Linked DNA regions of Homo sapiens: regions 2 and 3 are each linked to region 1. Evidence: fine-mapped QTL for protein levels in blood plasma. Region 1 holds a variant in brackets. A gene starts in each other region. All regions are shown on their forward strands.

Region 1 (6,520 bases):
CATTTGAACCCAGGTCCAATGGTCTCAGTGCCTTTTCCTACTACACCACACTGATGCCTCCAGTGAGAAATAAGCCCAGGGAATGACAGACTTACTAAGAATGGCCCTCCAATACAGGGCAGTAAAGGTAATGTTTTGCTACGAAAGATGGTCCCAGGTCAATAATATCCTGTCATTTTGAAGAGGTAAAGAACTGTTTTTCCATAGGATCATAGAGAAGAGTACTCTGCTCCCACCCAGAATCTCCTTAGGAAATGAAATACACAAGTTCCGTTTGGTTCCTTCGCCCCTACTGGGGTTTCCTTTTGGGAGGGGGTTCTGGGCATGCTCATAGTAGTCTTCCAAAACACTGTAAAACTGGCTGGGTGCAGTGGCTCGTGCCTGTAATCCCGGCACTTTGGGAGGCCGAGGCGGGCAGACCACTTGAGGCCAGGAGTTTGAGACTAGCCTGGGCAACATGGTGAAACCCTGTCTCTACTAAAAATACAAAAATTAGCCAGGCTTGATGGTGCGCACCTGTAATCCCAACTACTCGGAAGGCTGAGGCAGGAGAATGGCCTCAACCTGGGAGGTAGGGATTGCAGTGAGCTGAGACTGCACCACTGCACTCCAGCCTGAGCAAGAGAGAGAGATTCTGTCTCAAAAAAAAAAAAAAAAAGAAAAAAGAAAAAGAAAAAAAAACTTAAGACTATGACTGATTCTTTCTTTTAGCTCTTTTTAGAAAATTAAATAAAACAAATGCATGAATGACTGGCTCAAAATGTACACATTGTCTTTCTGTCTCAATGACAGACCTGCAATGTGTCCAGCCCTGAGGTTTGGCGCTGTAAAAGAACACAGACTTTGGAATTGATTAGACCTGGACCTGAAGGAAGGCACTGCTGCTTTCTTCTGGAATGAGCTTGCAGAAATTACTTCACTGAGCCTCCATCCCCTTATCTGGAAAATGGAGATGTCACCACCACCCTGAGGAGATGATGAAAGGGTTTATAAGAATACCTGATGAAATCCCTAGGCCAGTGTCTAGCACATCGTAGGTCCTCAATGGTAGTTGCTATTATTGTTCTTGTGAAAGGAAGGGAACAAAACAGAAGTGAAGACAGATGCGGGAATGGGTGTTTGGTTTGATTCTAGGGAACACTCACCTGGAAGTGTTTCCTACTGAAGAGAGAAAGGAAAAACCATTAATATCCAGTAACATCCACTTCAACCTGACAGGTTCTTAATCAGGCAAACATTTACTAGAGGAACAAATAAGAAAACTGACTCAATATGACAGGTGATAGGGTGTCCCGGGATGGTACTTAGGTGACTTATTACTGTGTATCTTGACCCAGCAAAGAAGCCCAGAGAACAGAACTTCAGGTGGGAGCAAGGCAGGGGCCATCCTTCCCCATCCCGCACCTTTTCAAAAGTCTGGAAGAGAAGCTAAAGGACCCAGGGAGTCCTTACCTTTCCAGCAGAACACAGGGCTATAATGCAACAGAAGCCCTGAGATAATGGCCAGTCCCAGCAGAAGGAGGCTCACAATGGTTCCCACAATCCCCCCGATATTTAAAGGTTCTGTAAAGACAAATCACACCATTGATTCTTCCATCAGATATGTGTGCAATTAGAACAACACCTCCCTTTCTCTGCGTGGATCCAGTTCTTGTCTTGATTCCTGACCTTGGGTAAGGCTTATGACCTGTCTGTAATGCCAGATAAATATTTTATCACCCAACCTCAGAGAGTTTGTGGGGATCAGATGGAGCAGGGAATGTGAACAAACAATGGAAAGTTAAAATCTCTCTGTCTACCAAACACTGAGACTATTTCTAAGGCCATGGTAAGTAAGAGTGTTGAGAGTTATCAATGCCATGATAAACAGAGTGATCAACGGAACAGAACAGAGAGTCCAGGAACGGGTCCACACGTAAGTATAATTGATATATGACAGGGTCTTGAGCAAAGGAAGCACTATTTAAGAATTGGTACTAGAGCCCGGGCGCAGTGGCGCATGCCTGTAATCCCAGCACTTTGGGAGGCTGAGGAGGGCGGATCACCTGAAGTCGGGAGATCGAGACCAGCCTGACCAACATGTTAAAACCCCGTCTCTACTAAAAATACAAAATTAGCCAGGTGTGGTGGTGCATGTCTGTAATCCCAGCTACTTGGGAGGCTGAGGCAGGAGAATCACTTGAACCCGGGAGGCGGGGGTTGCGGTGAGCCAAGATCGCGCCATTGCACTCCAGCCTGGGCAACAAGAGCGAAATTCCATCTCAAAGAAAGAAAGAGGGCCGGGCGCGGTGGCTCACGCCTGTAATCCCAGCACTTTGGGAGGCCGAGGCAGGCGGATCACGAGGTCAGGAGGTCGAGACCATCCTGGCTAACACAGTGAAACCCCATCTCTACTAAAAATACAAAAAATTAGCCGGGCACAGCGGCGGGCGCCTGCAGTCCCAGCTACTTGGGAGGCTGAGGCAGGAGAATGGCATGAACCCAGGAGGTGGAGCTTGCAGTGAGCCGAGATCGCACCACTGCACTCCAGCCTGGGTGACAGAGCAAGACTCCGTCTCAAAAAAAAAAAAGAAAGAAAGAGGAGGGGAGGGGAGGGAAAGAAAAGAAGGAAGGTAGGAAAGGGAAAAGGGAGAAGAGAAAGGAAAAGGGAGAAGGGAAGGGAAGAAAGAGGCCAGGTGTGGTGGCTCATGCTTGCAATCTCAACACTTTGGGAGGCTGAGATGGGAGGCTCACTTCAGGCCAGGAGTTCAAGACCAACCTGGTCAACACAGTGCGACCTCATCTGTATAAAAAATAAAATAAAAAGAAATAAGTAGAGACATATATAGTAAAACTTAAAATTCAGGACCATGGTTACCTTTCGAGAGAGGCCCAAGATGAGACTAGGCCTACAGGGAGGGTTCCCAGGTAAAATTCAGTATGCCCAGTGAAATTTGGATTTCAGATAAACAATGAATAGTTTTTTTAGTGTAAGTATGTCTCATGAAATATTTGGGACACACTTATACTTAAAAGTATTTATTTTTCTAAACTCAAATTTAAGCAGGCATCCTGTTTTTAAAGTTCTATTGCTATTTTCTTCTTTTTGAAGTGGATTCTCGCTCTGTCACCCAAGCTGAAGTGCAGTGGTGTGATCTCGGCTCACTGCAACCTTCGCCTCCCAGATTCAAGCAATTCTGCCTCAGACTTCCGAGTAGCTGGGATTACAGGCACCTGCCACCATGCTCAGCTAATGGTCTCGAACTCCCAACCTCAGGTGATCTGCCCATCTCAGCCTCCCAAGTAATTTTGTATTTTTAGTAAAGACGAGGTTTCACCATACTAGCCAGGCTGGTCTCAAACTCCTGGCCTCAAGTGATCCACCCGCCTCGGCCTCCCAAAGTGCTGGGATTACAGGCGTGAGCCACTGTGCCCAGCCCTATCGTTGTTTCCAAATCTGGCCCTGAGACATACAAGTAACCTAATGCATGTTGGTACTATTCTGTATCCTCAGTGGGATGATAGTTTCTTAGGTGTTCATTTTGCTGTTATGCTTTACAACTGACATACACTAGATATCTATTCGTTGGTGTGTATAGATATTATGTAATTTTTGCTACCTATGGAAATATTAGTGAGTTTAGGGTTGGATAATTTCTTCCAGCCACCTTGTCAAGTCATAAGCAAGCAGATATGCCTTCTCCCAGTTGGCAGTGACCCATGTGTAGGGAGGCACCAGGCTGTCCTCATGCTGATGCTGGGTGCTCTGAAGCTCTGAACCCTCCCTCCTTCAGGCCCAGTTCCACCACTCACCTTTCACACTCAGCCAGATTTCCATCTCCCTCACCCCTACAGGGCTGTCAGCTCGGCAGATGTAGTAGCCCTCATCCAGGTCCTGGGAGCAGTTGTGGATAGTGAGGGTGGAGTTCTGGCCATCCTGGGTAATGAGATGGCGGCTGCTAGGCTGG[ATGATCACCTCGGGCTGGG/A]TAAGGTTCCTCAGCCACAGGATCTTGGCAGGGGGGTAGGCCCCAGACACCTGGCATGTAAGCGTCACATTGCCCCCAGTGAAGCAAGTCTTCATGGGCTCAGAGAGAAGGGAGGGACCCCCTGGTGATCAGAAGGTAAACAAAGACAAATGTTTAAAGAGATTCAAGTCATGGCCTGAGATCTGCAGGAAAACTGCAGTAGTTTTTTGTTTTGTTTTGTTTTGTTTTGAGATGGAGGTTTTGCTCTGTTGCCCAGGCTGGAGTGCAGTGGTGCGATCTCAGCTCACTGCAACCTCTGCCTCCCTCCCGGGTTCAAGCAATTCTCCTGCCTCAGCCTCCCGAGCTGGGATTACAGGCATGCGCCACCACACCTGGCTAATTTTTGTATTTTTAGTAGAGACAGGGTTTCACCATGTTGCCCAGGCTGGTCTCAAACTCCCAACCTCAGGTGATTTGCCCATCTCAGTCTCCCAAAGTGCTGGGATTACAGGCGTGAGCCACCGCATCCGGCCCCAGTCCCCTTTATCTGTGATTTCACTTTCTGAGGTTTCAGTTACCATGGTTGACTACAGTCCAAAAATACTAAATGGAAAATTTCAGAAATGAACAATTTTTTTTTTTTTTTGAGATGGAGTCTCACTTTGTCGCCCAGGCTGGAGTGCAGTGATGCAATCTCAGCTCACTGCAATCTCCACCTCCTGAATTCAAGAGATTTTCCTGCCTCAGCCTCCCAAGTGGCTGGGATTACAGGCATGAGCCACCACGCCCACCTAATTTTTGTATTTTTAGTAGAGACGGGGTTTCACCATATTGGCCAGGCTAGTCTCAAACTCCTGACCTCAGGTGATCCACTTGCCTTAGCCTCCCAAAGTGCTAGGATTACAGGCGTGAGCCACCGTGCCGGGCCAATTCATAAATTTTTTATTTTTTCATTTCTTGCAGTACTTTTAAGTATATTCACAATTTCCTAAGTTTTAAACTGCACATTGTTCTGAGTCGTGTGACGAAATCTCACACCATCTGCATGAGCCTTTCTTCATCACAAGAAGGCTGAGTAGATATTTTGAGAGAAAGATCACATTCGCATACCTTTTATGACAGTATATTGTTATACTTGTCTATTTTTTATTAGTTACTATTGTTAATCTCTTATTGTGCCTAATGTATAAATTAACCTTATCATAAGTATTTATGTATAAGAAAAAGCATAGTATATATATGTATATATGTATATATGTGTATATGTATATATATGTGTATATATGTATATATGTGTATATGTATATATATGTATATATATGTATATATGTGTGTATATATATATGTGTGTGTGTGTATATATGTGTGTGTGTGTATATATATATATAGGGTTCAGTGCTACCCATGGCTTCAGGCATCCACTGGGGATCTAGGAACATATCCCTCATGGGTAAGGCAGGAACACTACATTTCCTTCCTAATGAAGCAACTCCAGAAATTTCTTTTTTTCTTTTTTTGTTTTTGAGACAAGGTCTCGCTCTGTCACCCAGGCTGGAGTGCAGTGCTGTGATCTTGGCTCACTGCAACCTCTGCCTCCCAGGTTCAAGTGATTCTCATGCTTCAGCCTCCCAAGTAGCTGGGATTACAGGTGCCTGCCACCATGCCTGGCTAATTTTTGTACTTTTAGTAGAAACAGGGTTTCACCATGTTGGTCAGGCTGGTCTTGAACTCCTGACCTCAAATGATCCTCCACCTTGGCCTCCCAAAGTGCTGGGATTACAGGCATGAGCCACCGTGCCTGGCCAACTCCAGAAATTTCTCCACCACACCTCGTCTTACATCATAATAAGCCTAAGATTACTAGGCATTTACTGTGGGCAAGGCACTGTTACATGTATTAACCCAATTCACTCTCACAGCAACCCTGTTATTATGCCCATTTTGCAGATAAGGAAACTGAGGCACAGAGAAAGTTAAGTAATTTGCTGAATGCTACAGAACTAAATAGGCAATGCAGCTAGGATTCAGAGTGATCAACTGCCCCAGTCTGCCCAGGACGTGGAGTATTCCCAGAATGAGGAGTTTTCAGTCCTAAAACCAGGAGAGTTCTGTGCAAACCAGGATAAACTGGCTACTGTATCCATAAGCCTTCCTTCTATGCTATACACTTTTACACATAAAAACTGTACTGATCGTATAAAAATGGACACATATCTGACAAGGATTTCAAGGGGACAAGAGGGCAGCTGTATTTGTTTCCAATTGCTGATGTAATAGATTGTGACAAACTTAGTGGCTTAAAGCACATTTATTCTCTTAACAGTTGTGGAGGCCAGGAGTCTAGAACGTCTTACAAGGTTAACATCAAGATGTTGGCAGAGCTGGTTCCTTTTGGACGCTCTAGAGCAAGCTTTTCCAACCTGCAGCTGCGGGCTAAATTCGGCCCAGGATGGCTTTGAATGTGAGGACATTTTTGTTTATCTGTGTGATGGATATCATGAAAATTATGCACGGTCCCTTTTTTTTTTTTTTGGCTCATCACCTATCGTTAGTGTTAGTGTTTGTGTGAAATACAT
Region 2 (6,433 bases), not on the chromosome of region 1:
CAGGGTCCACGCTGGCCAGCCACAGGCAGCATCTACCACAGACACCAGGCCAGTGACAGCCAAGGACGCTGCCCAGCCCCACGTGCCCCCCACAGGGGCCTCCAAGGCCACACACCCTTCTCCCACATCTACACCCCCCACCAGCACCTCCCTGTCCTGTGCCCCCAGGGCCTCCCAGCTGCGGAGGGTGAGGGTCCCACACACCCAGCTCCACCCACAGGGAAAGGCTGCCCCCAGGCAGCAGCTTCCTGCTCCCCAACCAGGTCCAGCCACATAGCCAGGCCCCCAGGGCCACCAGCACCTCCCCTTCCCCCAAAACTGCCCCCACCCCACCTGCCCCCCCAGCCCCTCCCAGCTCCCCAGCTCCTCCGCCCTCCTAACCACCCCAACCCCCCCCCAGCCCCTCCCAGCCCCTGGCCAGGCCCCTCACTTGGTCCAGGGCTTGCAGGCCTGGTTGTCGCCTGGGGAGAAGTGCCCTGGAGGGCAGGGGGCACAGTCTGCAACAAAGATAGGGTGGTCAGGGGCTGCCCACAGGCCCCGGGTGCTGGGGACATGGGGCAGAGCCTGTGGGGCAGGCACTTGCCCCCCATGGCTGGGTGGTGGGTTTGGCCTCTGGAAGCCCTCCCTGCCCACATCCCACCCGTGGGCCCTGACCCGGGAGCTCGGTCTTGAGGATGCCAGAGGAGGCACCGGTGGGGCCAGGTCCCTGCGGCCCACGGCCCATCTGCGTCACAGACAGCCGCTATGCACACCCCCAACCGCCGGCCGCAGCCACCGAGCTCACCAACTCCAGGCTTGTAGCTGTCCAGGGGCTGGGTGCCCGCCCGGCAGCGGCAGACTGTGTCCTGTGTGGCCGTGCACAGCTGCTTCCGCTCACTCCCACTTCCTGAGCAGGGGCCGGATGGGGGGGTGGTCAGGTGGGGGCTGTGGACAGGGTCCTCAGGAAGCGTGGGCACTGGAGGACAGGTTGGCCTCCCCACCACACAGAGGGCCGTGGGCAGGGGTCTGCGGCCTCCCCTGAGACTTGGAGCCCCTGCAGCCCCCGAGGCTCCTGGGCCCTCCCTTCCTGGCCACAACCTGGGGCTGGTTCCGTGGCAGCCCCAGCCACCCTTCCCTACCCCTCCACCGCCTCCAGCCGCCAGCCCCGCCTGCGGCAGGGTCTCCATGGCCCAACCCCCCAGCCTCACTGCTCAGGCCAGCAAGGCCAGGCCACATGGCCAGCGTGGTCTCCCCGACTCCACGTGGCCTGGGCCGAGTCTGGGCCCCCGGAGGGAGAGGGGGTGCCCCTGGGAGACGCCTCAGCTCCTCGAAGGACCCCTGTGGCGGAGCAGACCCCGCTGTGGTTTGAGGTTCGTTTCTGCGGCTGTGGGAGCCCCATGCTGCTGCGTGGGAATGTGGGTGCCAGGCTGCCGCCCCCTGTGCTGGGTGGGGCTGTGGGGCCAGGTGGGAGCTCACTGAGGTTACACCACGTGCAGGGCTTGCACGGCTTGGAGCTGACCACGTCGTTGTAGAAGCCCGGCCCGCACGGACGGCACACCGTGTTCTGGGAGCGGCTGCAGCGGCTCACCATCCCGTTGCCTGCAGCAGAGGCCGGCGTCAGGCAGCGGTCAGGCCCCAGGCTTGCGCCCGTGGACCCCCCCAGGCGGCTCCTCTGCCAGGCTTGGCCGGCCCCTCACCCGCCCCCTCCCCAGGACCAGCCTCCTGGCTGGCCCATCCCTGCCCCAGCCCCCAGTCCCTGGAGTGCCCGTGCGTGGCGACCCCTCCTGAGGCCTCACCTGGCCTGCACTCGTGGCAGCACCGGTCGTTGCTGGGGTAGGTGTCCCCGACACAGTGGAGCCCCGTCACGGTGCTCAGCCCCAGGCCCAGGAGGAGCAGAGCCGCACACGGCCCGCGGCCCAGCCGCCGAGCCCCCACGCACATCCTCGTCTCTGCTGTCGCCAGAGTCTGGGTTTTCCTTGCGGGGTGTGGCTATAAGGACTGTGGAGGAGGGGAGGGGAGAGGGGAGGAGGGCAGAGGAGGCGGGAGGAGGAAGGTGGCAGGCCGGGGACCCTGGCTGTGGGCTGGGCACAAAGGCGGGGTCTGGGCACCCCCAGCATTGGCTTATTCTGCCTTCTGACCTCTTCTGCCCAAGACCACCGTGTTCAGACCCCAGGGCACAGTAGGGCCTGGCCTGCGGCTCGACCCTCAGCAAAAAGGTCCATGGAGCACGTGGGTAAACTGAGGCAGCACTGAGTCAGGAGAGGCAACTCCTCAGTCTGGACCTTCAGGGCTGTGGCACTGCTGAAGCATGGTCCCCCTTGTATGCCCAAGACTAGCTCTGAGCAGCAGTGACCACAGCCATGGTAAGACAGACACCCATGGCCAGGCACGGTGGCTCCCGCCTGTAATCCCAGCACTTTGGGAGGCCAAGGCGGGTGGATCACCTGAGGTCAGGAGTTCAAGACCAGTCTGGCTAACATGGCGAAATCCCGTCTCTACTAAAACTACAAAAATTATTCGGGCGTGGTGGCGGGCGCCGGTAATCCCAGCTAGTCAGGAGGCTGAGGTAGCAGAATCACTCGAACCCAGGAGACAGAAGTTGCAAAGCAGAGGTGGCGCCACTGCACTCCAGCCTGGGCGACAGGGCGAGACTCATCTCAAAAAAAAAAAAAAAGACACCCGTGACCACAGCCCACGCTGAGTGTGCCTGAGCACGGCAGGTGTCTATGGCTGAACTGTGCCCCTTAAATTCCTGCGTGGAAGCCCTAACCCCCATGTGGCAGTGTTTGGAGACAGGCCTCTGAGGAGGTGGTGAGGGTGGGTCCTGGATGGCCTGGCGCACACGGGCACGCAGGCAGGTTTCCACCTTCTATGCAAACAGTTCTCAGGTTCCAGGTTTGCCCAGAGGATGCGAACTGCCCGGAGAGCTGGGGAGCAGGTGCGGGGCTGGGGGCTCCCTGGGCCCTTTCTGCACCTTTCAAATAACTGTGACCAGCCTGTGATTATCCAAAAGTTCATTTTTGAAGTTGCAAGTGGAGAGGGGCCTCTAGGAACAGAGCAGCAGGGAAGGGGCTGGAAATCCCCTCCTCCCAGGAGCACAGGAAACAGCTGCCTGTCCTCGGCCCACCCGTGGGGAAATTCCCAGCCGTGGAGCCCGCTGGCCCTGGAGAGGGAGGGAGTGGAGGGAGAGGCCACCCGCCCTCGGACTGAGGGTCCCTAAGTTGGTCACCCTCCCCACGTCCCCACAAGTAGAGAGGACCCTGGAAGGGCTCAGAGCATCCCAGACAGTGTGTGTACCTGCATGTGCACACCCCAACCCAGGTGGGCAGAGGAGGAAAGTTCTGGCATTTTGTGGAAGGTTCCACCCAGCGTTCACAAGGGTTTCCCACTGACAGTGAGAAAAAGCTTACATTTGCAATTGGTTCCTTGGAGGTTCAGGTGAACTGGGGGTCTTGGTGGGCAACACTGCTCTCCTGGGGCCTAAGTGGCCACATCTGCCCACAGGTGCAGTGAGTGGGGCCCGTGCACCATGGAGAGGGCACCCCCAGCATATTGCTGGCAACTGCAATGGCCCCAGGATGGGGCACGGCCCCTCCTGCTTGAAGCTGCCCAGGAAGCTCAGGTCTCCTTGTCCTGGGCTTAAGGTCACAGGTCCAAGAAAGCCCTGCTGTGTCCATGGAACCGGGTGTGGCGTGGCCACAGGAGGCTGGACACTGACCCAGAGCTCAGGACCCCCAAGGTCTGTAAGGCAGCCTGCAGCTCGAACCACATCCCCAGGAGCTGGGCTCCCCGCTCCACACAGTAGTGTCGCGGGCGGCACAGGGCAGCCCATGAGTGGCCACTGCTCCTCCAGTACCAGACTGGAGCTGGCTGGGGCCTCTGAAGGGCCAGGTGCCACCACATACCCAGCTGTCCCCCCGCCTTCATGTCCAGCACAGCATGGCCTCAGCTCACACCTCCCACCTCTGGGTGCACGGCCCTCAGCACAGGGCGTCGAATGCTGCTGCAGCTATGATGGTCCCTGGCTGTGGCCTGGGGCCACGGATGGGGAAAGACAGAGTCCAGGCCACCGAAGGTTGGCTCCAGGGAATTACAGCCCCTTAGAGCAGGGCGTGGGACCATCCTCCCACCACCTGCGCTGGCCGTGGCTCTGTGAATCTCGTTTGCCTGGGAACCAGCCCAGGTGCCAACCCGCCCTCTCGGCCCCACAGGGGCCCCTGGGCAGGTGGGCTCAGGGCAGAGGCCGGTCACATGGGCACCACAGGGCAGACTGAAGAGGACACACTCCCGGCTTCCCTGAGCTCCCACTGGGAGAGCCAGGACACAGCCTGGGCCCCCACACGCCACAGAGCAGGACCCCCACCAGCCGTCCTAACACACCCCATTCTCTGCCCCATCTGGGGCTAGGCCTGCCCCACTGCACCCAAAGACCTTGCCATCCTCCACCCAAAACCCCCAGGCGGCTCTGTCTCCTGCCTTAAATGTCCAAACCCCAAACTCAGTGGGCACGTCTGCTGCCCCCTGACCCCTACTCACAAACGCAGCGCTGCCCTCCGTCCTCCCAGAGCCCCTGCCCGTTGCCACCTGCCAGGAGAATCACCTCGAACCGGCCATGACCTCCAACCCTCCACGTGACCCAGCACCAGCCTCCAGCGCTCCAGTGGAAACTGTAACCACAAACCTAGCACGCTGCTGTTGTGTTTTGTTTCACGCCCAAAGAATGAAGCTGACCAAAAAAGGCAACTATATTTAAAGTAAATGTATGTGATTCTTGTCACAACAAATATTTGCATTTTCTCAGCGGCAGCTGCGGGACCTGGGTGGCTCCGACACGCCAGGCCCGGGAAGGACCCGGCACCCTCCCCTGAACTTCCTGGCTACTCATTTCCAGCGAAGTTTAATCTATTTTTAATAATCGTTCAGTTTTCAAGGAAATGGAGGAGCTGTTTTTTCCCACGGAGCGGCGGCCCTGGGAGGGGCCGGGCCCAGAGGTTCCGGCCGCGATGCCGTCAGCGCCTTCGGCAGAGTGACTGAAGCGAGATTTCGTTCTCAGAAGTGAGATGCCACGATTTCGAGGGACCAGGGAGGAGGCGGCGCCGCGGGGCCACAGCCCAGCCCCGCGCCCCGACCGCGTCACAGCCAAAGCCCCGCCGGGGTGCGCGCTGCAGAGGGGACACGCCGCTCATCAACTGGGGCAGCCGCGGTCGGTCGGCCGGTGGCGGGCGGCAGGGAAGAGGTGGGGTCCGGGACAGCCACGGAGCCCGGAGTCACCCGCGAGGCCGCCCCGGTGGTGCGTGGGGGGCGGCGCGGGGCGCGGCCGGGCGCTCAAAACTCCTCGTGCACGCTGCGCGCGTAGTCCACCAGCTTGCTGCCCGTGAAGAACTCGCTGTACTTGAGCACCTCCTCGGGCTCCAGGTGGTGGTTCTGGTTCTCGTCGGCGACGGCGATCATCTGCTTGGCCTCGTTCAGCGCGTTGTACTCGTTCATGGGGTCCATGTAGCTCTGCGGGCGAGCGGGGCACAGGTCAGCGTCGCCTTTCCCCCTCCGAGCTCCGCGGCCAGCCGCACGAAGTGGCTATTTAAGGTGCCTATTGGCTGCAGCGGGAGTGTGGGCACGTTCTGGAAGGTTCCCGAAGGGAGGCGGCACAAATGAAAACACAGGGCAGGGAGAAGCCGGGGGCCCCGGAAGGCCTGCCCGGGGCCAGCAGGGGTAACGGGGCACAGGGGCTACACAGGCCTGGACCCCAGTTCTGAAGGATCCCTAACCTGGGCCGGGCCCACTGGCTGTCGCCAGGAATCACAGGATTCTACATAAAAACAAGATGACTCACTCAGCAGTGGGAGAAAAACAAGCCTACACATGATACCAGTGAAAACGCTTCAGAGGAAGGTGGTAAATTCCAGCCATGTGGCACAGGCCGCCCCGCCCACCTGCACCTGCTGGGCCTTGGACCTGCCTCCATGCTGGGCCCAGCATGAGCTTCCCCTTGTGGTCCCGTTAAAAAGGGGCTGTGAGAACCCTGACGCCTCCGCAAGGGGCTGAGGATGGAGCCCGGCCAGGCTCGCCTGTCTCTGATCCGTCTGAACCTAAACGCCAACAACGGCCATGCAGCCTGGTGGACACCGCTGAGCAAACGCCCCAGTGACCAGCCCAGATGGAGTCTCAGGCCAGACACCAGCACAGCTTCCTGCCTCAGGCCCAGATCCACCAGCCCCTCCCGCCACAGCACCTCGCAGGGCCGGCTCCGGGACACGGCTGCGCCAGGGCTCACCTCCAGCTCCTCGGCGGTCACGATGCCGTCGTGGTTGGAGTCAATGAGCTCCTCAAACTCCTTTTTTCTGTCTTTCACCCAGTTGTCGTCAATGTCCTGGCCCTGCTGGTTCTCCACGGTGCCCACGGGCAGGGAGATGAACTCGGGCACAGAGAGCTGCTTGTCACCGTCCTGGTCTGCGAG
Region 3 (6,354 bases), not on the chromosome of region 1:
CCCCCAGTGAGCATGTATTTGTTAAAAAACATACATTAGAAGTAATATTGCATAGAGTGGATTCTGTCCCCATACTGCCTAGGTTTGAATTCCAATTTTTCCTTTACTGGAAAAGTAAGAGACAGTGTGTCACTCTGTCACCCAGCCTGGAAGGCAGTGGTGTAATTTCGGCTCACCTCAGCCTCAACTTCACAAGCTCATGCAATCCTGCCACCTTAGCCTCCTGAATACAGGCACATCCCACCATGCCTGGCTAGTTCATTATTATTATTATTTTGTAGATATGGGTTCTCCTTATGTTGCCTAAGCTGGTCTCAAACTCCTGGGCTCCAGCGATCCACCCAGTTTGGCCTCCCAAAGTGCTGAGATTGCAGGCATGAGCCACCGCACCCACCCCAATTTTTCCTTTTAAATAGGTGTAAATGTACCTGTAAAATGCAGTACCTACCTCATCAGCTTTTATGGAGGATTAAATGTGGTAATATTGTAAGGTAATTAAAAAATATGCACATGGCAAACGTTACATAAATATTTGTTATTCAGTAGTTAGGAAAGCAATGATCTTATTTCCATTTTGAGAAAACGCTGATCAGTATTTAAACTTCTCAAAGAAGACAAGATATTGTCATAGATGTTAGCAATTTTAAATGAGGTCCACAAAAAACAACAAAACTGAAAAGAAAAGCAGCTCACCATTACCCAACTTACTGAATTGAGGTAGTTAAACACACAGGCCCTTAAGGCAGAATAGGACTGAGTTCTAAGCTTAATATCCATACACATAGCTCTGAGACCTTGACAAGCCACACAACCTCCTATAACTCAGATTCCTCACCTGTAAAAAATGAAGACAACGTAAGGCACTAGAGATAATAGAAACCATTGGTCTTACAGCGCTCTTCCGTAGATTACTTAAAATAACCTATATGAAGCACTTAGCATGTTGACTAGCAATTAATAAGATCTTTATTAGTGTCAGCTATTACTATTATCATTACCAATTACTGCTCTTTAAAATAAGTCAGAGACCAAAATGAGTCTGAGAAAATATCACAGAGGCTAAAACCCCAAGATGAGACAGACTGTCAAAACAAGGCCAACAGAAGATCCTAAGAAAGAAAAAAAAAAAAGCAAATATCTGATCCAGCAGATGTTGCACAGCAATGGATGCTAAGATAACAGAGAGCAGGGATTCCAGCTCAAGCATAAAACTTGAGGAGACACTCAATTAGAAGGACTCTAAAAATAACAATAGAAAAGGAGAGCAATCATTTTATCCACACGATACCCTGTATGGTTGGTATTCTTGTCTCTGTTTTACAGAGAAGACAGATTCAGAAAGGATAAATACCTTGTTTAAACTTGTACACAGAGAGAGAGAGAGAGAGAGAGAGAGAGAGTGTGTGTGTGTGTGTGTGTGTGTCAGGATCCTAGGCCAAACATCAAAGAGAACCTGTGTTCTGTGCAGATGTCTTGTAAACCTTGTGGTAGTTCTGCAGCAGCTATCATTCACAGGCAGAGTAAATAAGAACCCACTTAGCAAAAATAAGGTATTACGTGGTGATAATAGAGTTCAATTTCAGATTAAGAGTCCAACATCCAGATGGTTGAGCCTCCAAACTAGGGTCTGTCTATATCACTGCAGTGCCAAGCCTAGATTAAGTGAGAACCCATATATAGGTGATCCCAGCTGAGGAGACCAGAGAGATGGCCTAAGAGGGTAAAACGGGCCAGACCTGCTACCCTGGTTTATTCGTACCACTTTCTAATATGTATGCAACGTTTTCATAACACAATGAGGTTTCTTCTCTTGTGCAACTCAATTCCAAGAGTATGTGAGTCAAACTCAAAGGCAACTTCTACATTCTTCTTTTCATTTCAGGAAGAGAAAATACAAAGTGCAACTCAATTCCAAGAGTATGTGAGCCAAACTCAAAGGCAACTTCTACATTTTTCTTTTCATTTCAGGAAGAGAAAATACAGAGTGTGACTATAGGTGGACTAGACACTGTATCGGAAAGGCGGGGTCTAATACTAACATTCTGTCTATTGCCCTCTCATTTCCACTTTCTGCTTAGGCCAACAAATGGGCACTTTGATTTTCGACATTTTCAACAATTTATTAATCCCCAGGATGGCCAATAGAGGGCAGACGATCTCTTCTTCTAGACCTCCATCAGAAATACTTCGTAATTCCTGGTTCGTTGCAGACCTGTTCCCCAACCCCTCCCCCACCCCCCCACCACCCCCACCCCAAACTTCGATGACTCCCTCCTGCCCATACCATCCCTTTCAAGTACTGATTTTGAGGTATTTACTAAAACCAAGAGAGAAGGGCTGCAGACAATAATATTCAAATATCATTTTGACTGTAATTCTTCACTCTCCCTTTTTCAACTCATTCATGCATGCATTTTTATAAATCCTGCCCTCTCCAATAAGCTGACAAGCTAATTGGGTTCAGAGTTATTTAAATAACTATAATGTAACATGATAAATGCTACAAGCAGAGGTACTTACAAATGCTGTAGAACAGATAAAGAAGCTCAAGAAGGCTTCTCAGAAAGGGAGGCCTTTCATGTGTGGCTCTAATTCTTAACATTCGTTCATGACTTTCAGGGTCCATTCAATTTCAGGGTAATTCTTCCTAGTCCACTTTCACCCGTGACACCTGATTGTCATCATGTTGGGCTCACCCAAACTCTTTCTGTAACCATAGTCTGGTCTTTGAAGATAAGAAAATACTTTTGTATTCGAGCCTCAGTATCATTGCCTCAGCTTCTCACTACCTCATTATCATCCCTCCTGGATCCCAGAGAAGAAAGAGCTGTTTCATAACTGAGCTCCTGATTCACACACTGGTTTCAGAAAAGCTGCCAGGACCTTGCAGGTTTCTCATTCGCCACTAGTCACTGGCTTCAAGGAATCCTATTTTCTCTATTGCTTCTATGACTATTAATTTTATGCCAAAGGGCATGTGTAATGTAACTTGATTTTTTTTTTCTTTTTGAGCTGATACAATCATCTTCATCTTAAAGAATCTCCCTAGTCCTTTCTAAACCTGACTTGAATTCCTGTGAGAAGTCAACCTTTCTCATGTTGTATCTGTCCATCTACCTTCCAGGTGGTTCTACTTCTGAAGTCCCAGGAACAATGAATAGTCATCTCCAAATTATCCTTTGCCTGTGCTCATCTGTAGCTTTCCTTAATCCTTAATATATCCCCTTAAAAATAAATAGAAGCTAAACTTTGACAATGCTTATTACCTCCTTCTTTCCTAACCACAGTAGCTTTCTCACTTCTGCCTTTTTCTCATCACCTGACCTTGGCTTTTCCTGCAGGTCCTACAATGTTATCTGCTACATTTTAATGTCTTTATACTTGCATTTGAACAGAAATACAGATAACCTCCTCTGCAAGAGTGGGAGGGACCTTTTAACACAGAGCAATGATGACAGTTTGTTGGCAAATCCCACACTGAAGTGCTGGTGCCTTGTTCGGTGACAAGAAAGAACAATGTTTAACAATGTGTGTTTTATTTTTCTTCAGTTTTTTTGTTTGTTTGTTTTTGAGACAGAGTCTTGCTCTGTCGCCCAGGCTGGAGTGCAATGACGCAATCTCGGCTCACTGCAACCTTCACCTCCTGGGTTCAAGTGATTCTCCTGCCTCAGCCTCCTGAGTAGCTGGGATTACAGGCATGCGCTACCACACCCGGCTAATTTTTGTATTTTTGATAGAGACAGGGTTTCACCATGTTTCACCATGTTGGCCAGGCTGGTCTCGAATTCCTTACCTCAAGTGATCTGCCCACCTTGGCCTCCCAAAGTGCTGGGATTATAGGCATGAGCCACCACGCCCAGTCTCTTCGGTTTTTCTAATAGAAAACCTAGCATATTTTAAACGATTTTGCCACTTAACACTTATTATGGACCCACAGGGTATGAGGGCCTTTGGAGATCATCTAATCGGACTTCCCACCCAACTACAGGAATCATTTCATTGCAACAACTCTTTAAACCCGTCTAGAAAATGCAATGCTCTCTCCCCTTTTCCACGGTTGAACATCTTCCTCATGGCCCTATAATAATCAATGATAATTAATGAGCCTCTTCCTCTCCTTGGACAAAGAAATATGATAGGAGAAATGTTTAGTTTGCTGATGCCCATCATGGGGGAATAGTCCACTGGTAACTCTGGCTTTTGGGTTCAGGATTAGACAGAGTGGTTAAACTAAAATATTTATCGTAAGTATGAATTTGTTCCACAAACATAACATTTCAAAGGTAGCTTTGTTTCCTCTTTCCTTGCACTGCCAGCTATTAACTTTCGGTTCATTAGTCACGATTTTCAGAATCCACTTGGCTGCCACCTTCCTGCAGCCAGACCATCTTGGATCAGAGGGTGGGCCAGCCATTCCCACGTCACACCTGCCACGGGATCGATTTTTTCCCCCATTGACCACAGTCACTTTTTGTCAATTAATTAATGTTATTCACCTGGTACCCATCTTGTGAATGGTAGGTCACTACGGAGCGGATTACTACTTCATATCCCATCAATGACAGAGCCATCATTACGAAAACCTTTTCTGACAACCACTGAAGAGAAACCATCTCCACACCGTGCATTTTGCATCACTTCCGTTGCTTCTTTACCTGATTTATCACAAAGACTATGTACCACACATCTTCTTTATTAATGCATTGACAATCAGTGAAGACAATGAAAACCCACCACTTTTGTCCGTGAACTGAGAAAGAAAATGGCAATGTCATATGGCATTAATGATGCATGAGATCTATGGGTGTAGTGTCACGTCTAGGCGTGTAGTAATCCAGTCTTCGGCCTTACTCCAGGGAGAAAGATTCAGCTTTGTTACTTTCCAGTCACTCTCTCCCGTAACACAGCACCTTGGCACAGAAAGCAGAGCGACAAAACCCAGAATGAGGACAGTTAAAATTCAACTCAAGCTACAGCCATCCCAACGGTCCTCCCCAGCTCCCGCGGAATATTTACCAAGACCGTTTAAAGCACTTAATTAATTCACTTCAGCTTCGCTGGAGAGGTCTCAGGGTTCCCGAGACTCCATTACATAATATCTTTCACAAAGTCTATTCCCAGCTCGAATGGAAGATGGATTCTCATCCAGTGTGCGGAGGTTCCATGCCTTTGCTTCCCTTTCCCGGAGTTCGATCCGGCGATACCCTCCCGAGGCTGCAGCCATCGCCCCGGCCCCGAGCTTCTGGGGTACCCGCCACTCTTCGAACTCCAATCTGGCCCCGAAGGTGCAGCCGCCTCGCCCTCCTGGCTCCCAGGCCGGCCGCTGCGGCCACGGTGCCAGCGAGCGCCCGGGACACCGCGACTCTCGCTGCTCGCTGGGTGCGCCCCAAGCCCATCCGCAGCGCACCCGCGGCGCCGGGGCCAGAGCCGCAGCTCGGTGGCACGGCCGGCTCGGTGCGCCGGGCTCGGGGAGGAGGAGATCGGGAAGAGGTGGAGGCGTGTGAGGGAGGGAGGAAGGGCCCGGCCGCCCGAGAGGGGGAGGGGGAGGCGGAGGGGGCCGGCCGGGCCGGGGAGGGGGGGCAGCCAATGAGCGGCGCGCGGCGCGTGGGGGTGGGGGGAAGGTCTGGGGGAGGAGGTAGGATGGGGGAGGGCGCAGCCCGAGCGGCTGAGGCTCCAGCCATAAACAAGCGCCCGGAGGAGCGGCGCAGGAGTGAGGCGAGCGGGGCGCGCGGAGCGGACGCCGCGGATCTTGTGCTGCGCCACCGCGCCCACTCGGCAGCTCGGGAGGCGGGGACCGGCCCGGAGGCTGCGCCGCTGCGGGGCCGGCCGACTCGGAGGAGGAGAGGGAGGAGGCGCCGCCGGCCCGGGCTGGAGCCGAGCGCAGCAGCCACCGCCGCCGCCGCGCCAGAAGTTTGGGTTGAACCGGAGCTGCCGGGAGGAAACTTTTTTCTTTTTTCCCCCTCCCTCCCGGGAGGAGGAGGAGGAGGAGGAGGGGAAGCTGCCGCCGGCGCCAAGGCTCGTGGGCTCGGGGTCGGCGCGGCCCGCAGAAGGGGCGGGGGCCTCGCCCCGCGAGGGGAGGCGCGCCCCGGGGGCCCCGAGAGGGGCGGTGAGGACCGCGGGCTGCTGGTGCGGCGGCGGCGGCGCGTGTGCCCCGCGCAGGGGAGGGCGCCCGCCCCGCTCCCGGCCCGGCTGCGAGGAGGAGGCGGCGGCGGCGCAGGAGGATGTACTTGGTGGCGGGGGACAGGGGGTTGGCCGGCTGCGGGCACCTCCTGGTCTCGCTGCTGGGGCTGCTGCTGCTGCTGGCGCGCTCCGGCACCCGGGCGCTGGTCTGCCTGCCCTGTGACGAGTCCAAGT

Alleles and levels. Alleles are on the strand shown, and positions count from the first base shown. The strength of an association depends on the size of the effect and on how common the allele is.
As copies of ATGATCACCTCGGGCTGGG replace A in region 1, the plasma level of the protein whose gene starts at base 1,946 in region 2 goes up (weak association).
In carriers of allele ATGATCACCTCGGGCTGGG in region 1, the plasma level of the protein whose gene starts at base 5,707 in region 3 tends to be higher than with A alone (weak association).

The links. PIP is the posterior inclusion probability: the model's chance that the variant is causal. Protein levels are from antibody-based Olink assays in UK Biobank. Linkage for the fine-mapping came from a reference panel and not from the study's own genotypes, which makes the PIPs less certain.
Region 2: TNFRSF4 starts here. The variant in region 1 is fine-mapped to the plasma level of the TNFRSF4 protein (UK Biobank, PIP 0.95).
Region 3: it holds the start of CRIM1, and the variant in region 1 is fine-mapped to the plasma level of the CRIM1 protein (UK Biobank, PIP above 0.99).

What each region holds. Positions count from the first base shown.
Region 1 is chr12:118,069,907-118,076,426 of GRCh38, forward strand. It overlaps VSIG10 (V-set and immunoglobulin domain containing 10), which reads right to left. Exons shown (of 9, transcript NM_019086.6): 5 at 3,793-4,086; 6 at 1,453-1,563; 7 at 1,146-1,161. It overlaps LOC124903030 (a long non-coding RNA gene), which reads left to right. Exons shown (of 2, transcript XR_007063479.1): 2 at 6,268-6,520. Among named protein-coding and RNA genes, the nearest start is that of WSB2, 12 kb to the left of the region's middle. The variant ATGATCACCTCGGGCTGGG/A (reference allele first, on the strand shown) is at 3,948.
Region 2 is chr1:1,212,208-1,218,640 of GRCh38, forward strand. It overlaps TNFRSF4 (TNF receptor superfamily member 4), which reads right to left and starts at 1,946. Exons shown (of 7, transcript NM_003327.4): 1 at 1,776-1,946; 2 at 1,456-1,578; 3 at 785-886; 4 at 431-497. The coding sequence starts at 1,920. SDF4 (stromal cell derived factor 4) reads right to left here. Exons shown (of 7, transcript NM_016176.6): 6 at 6,251-6,426; 7 at 4,724-5,481. The coding sequence ends at 5,305. RefSeq lists a silencer at 1,024-1,073.
Region 3 is chr2:36,350,072-36,356,425 of GRCh38, forward strand. It overlaps CRIM1 (cysteine rich transmembrane BMP regulator 1), which reads left to right and starts at 5,707. Exons shown (of 17, transcript NM_016441.3): 1 at 5,707-6,354. The coding sequence starts at 6,222. CRIM1-DT (CRIM1 divergent transcript) reads right to left here and starts at 5,499. Exons shown (of 2, transcript NR_037631.1): 1 at 5,017-5,499; 2 at 4,678-4,910.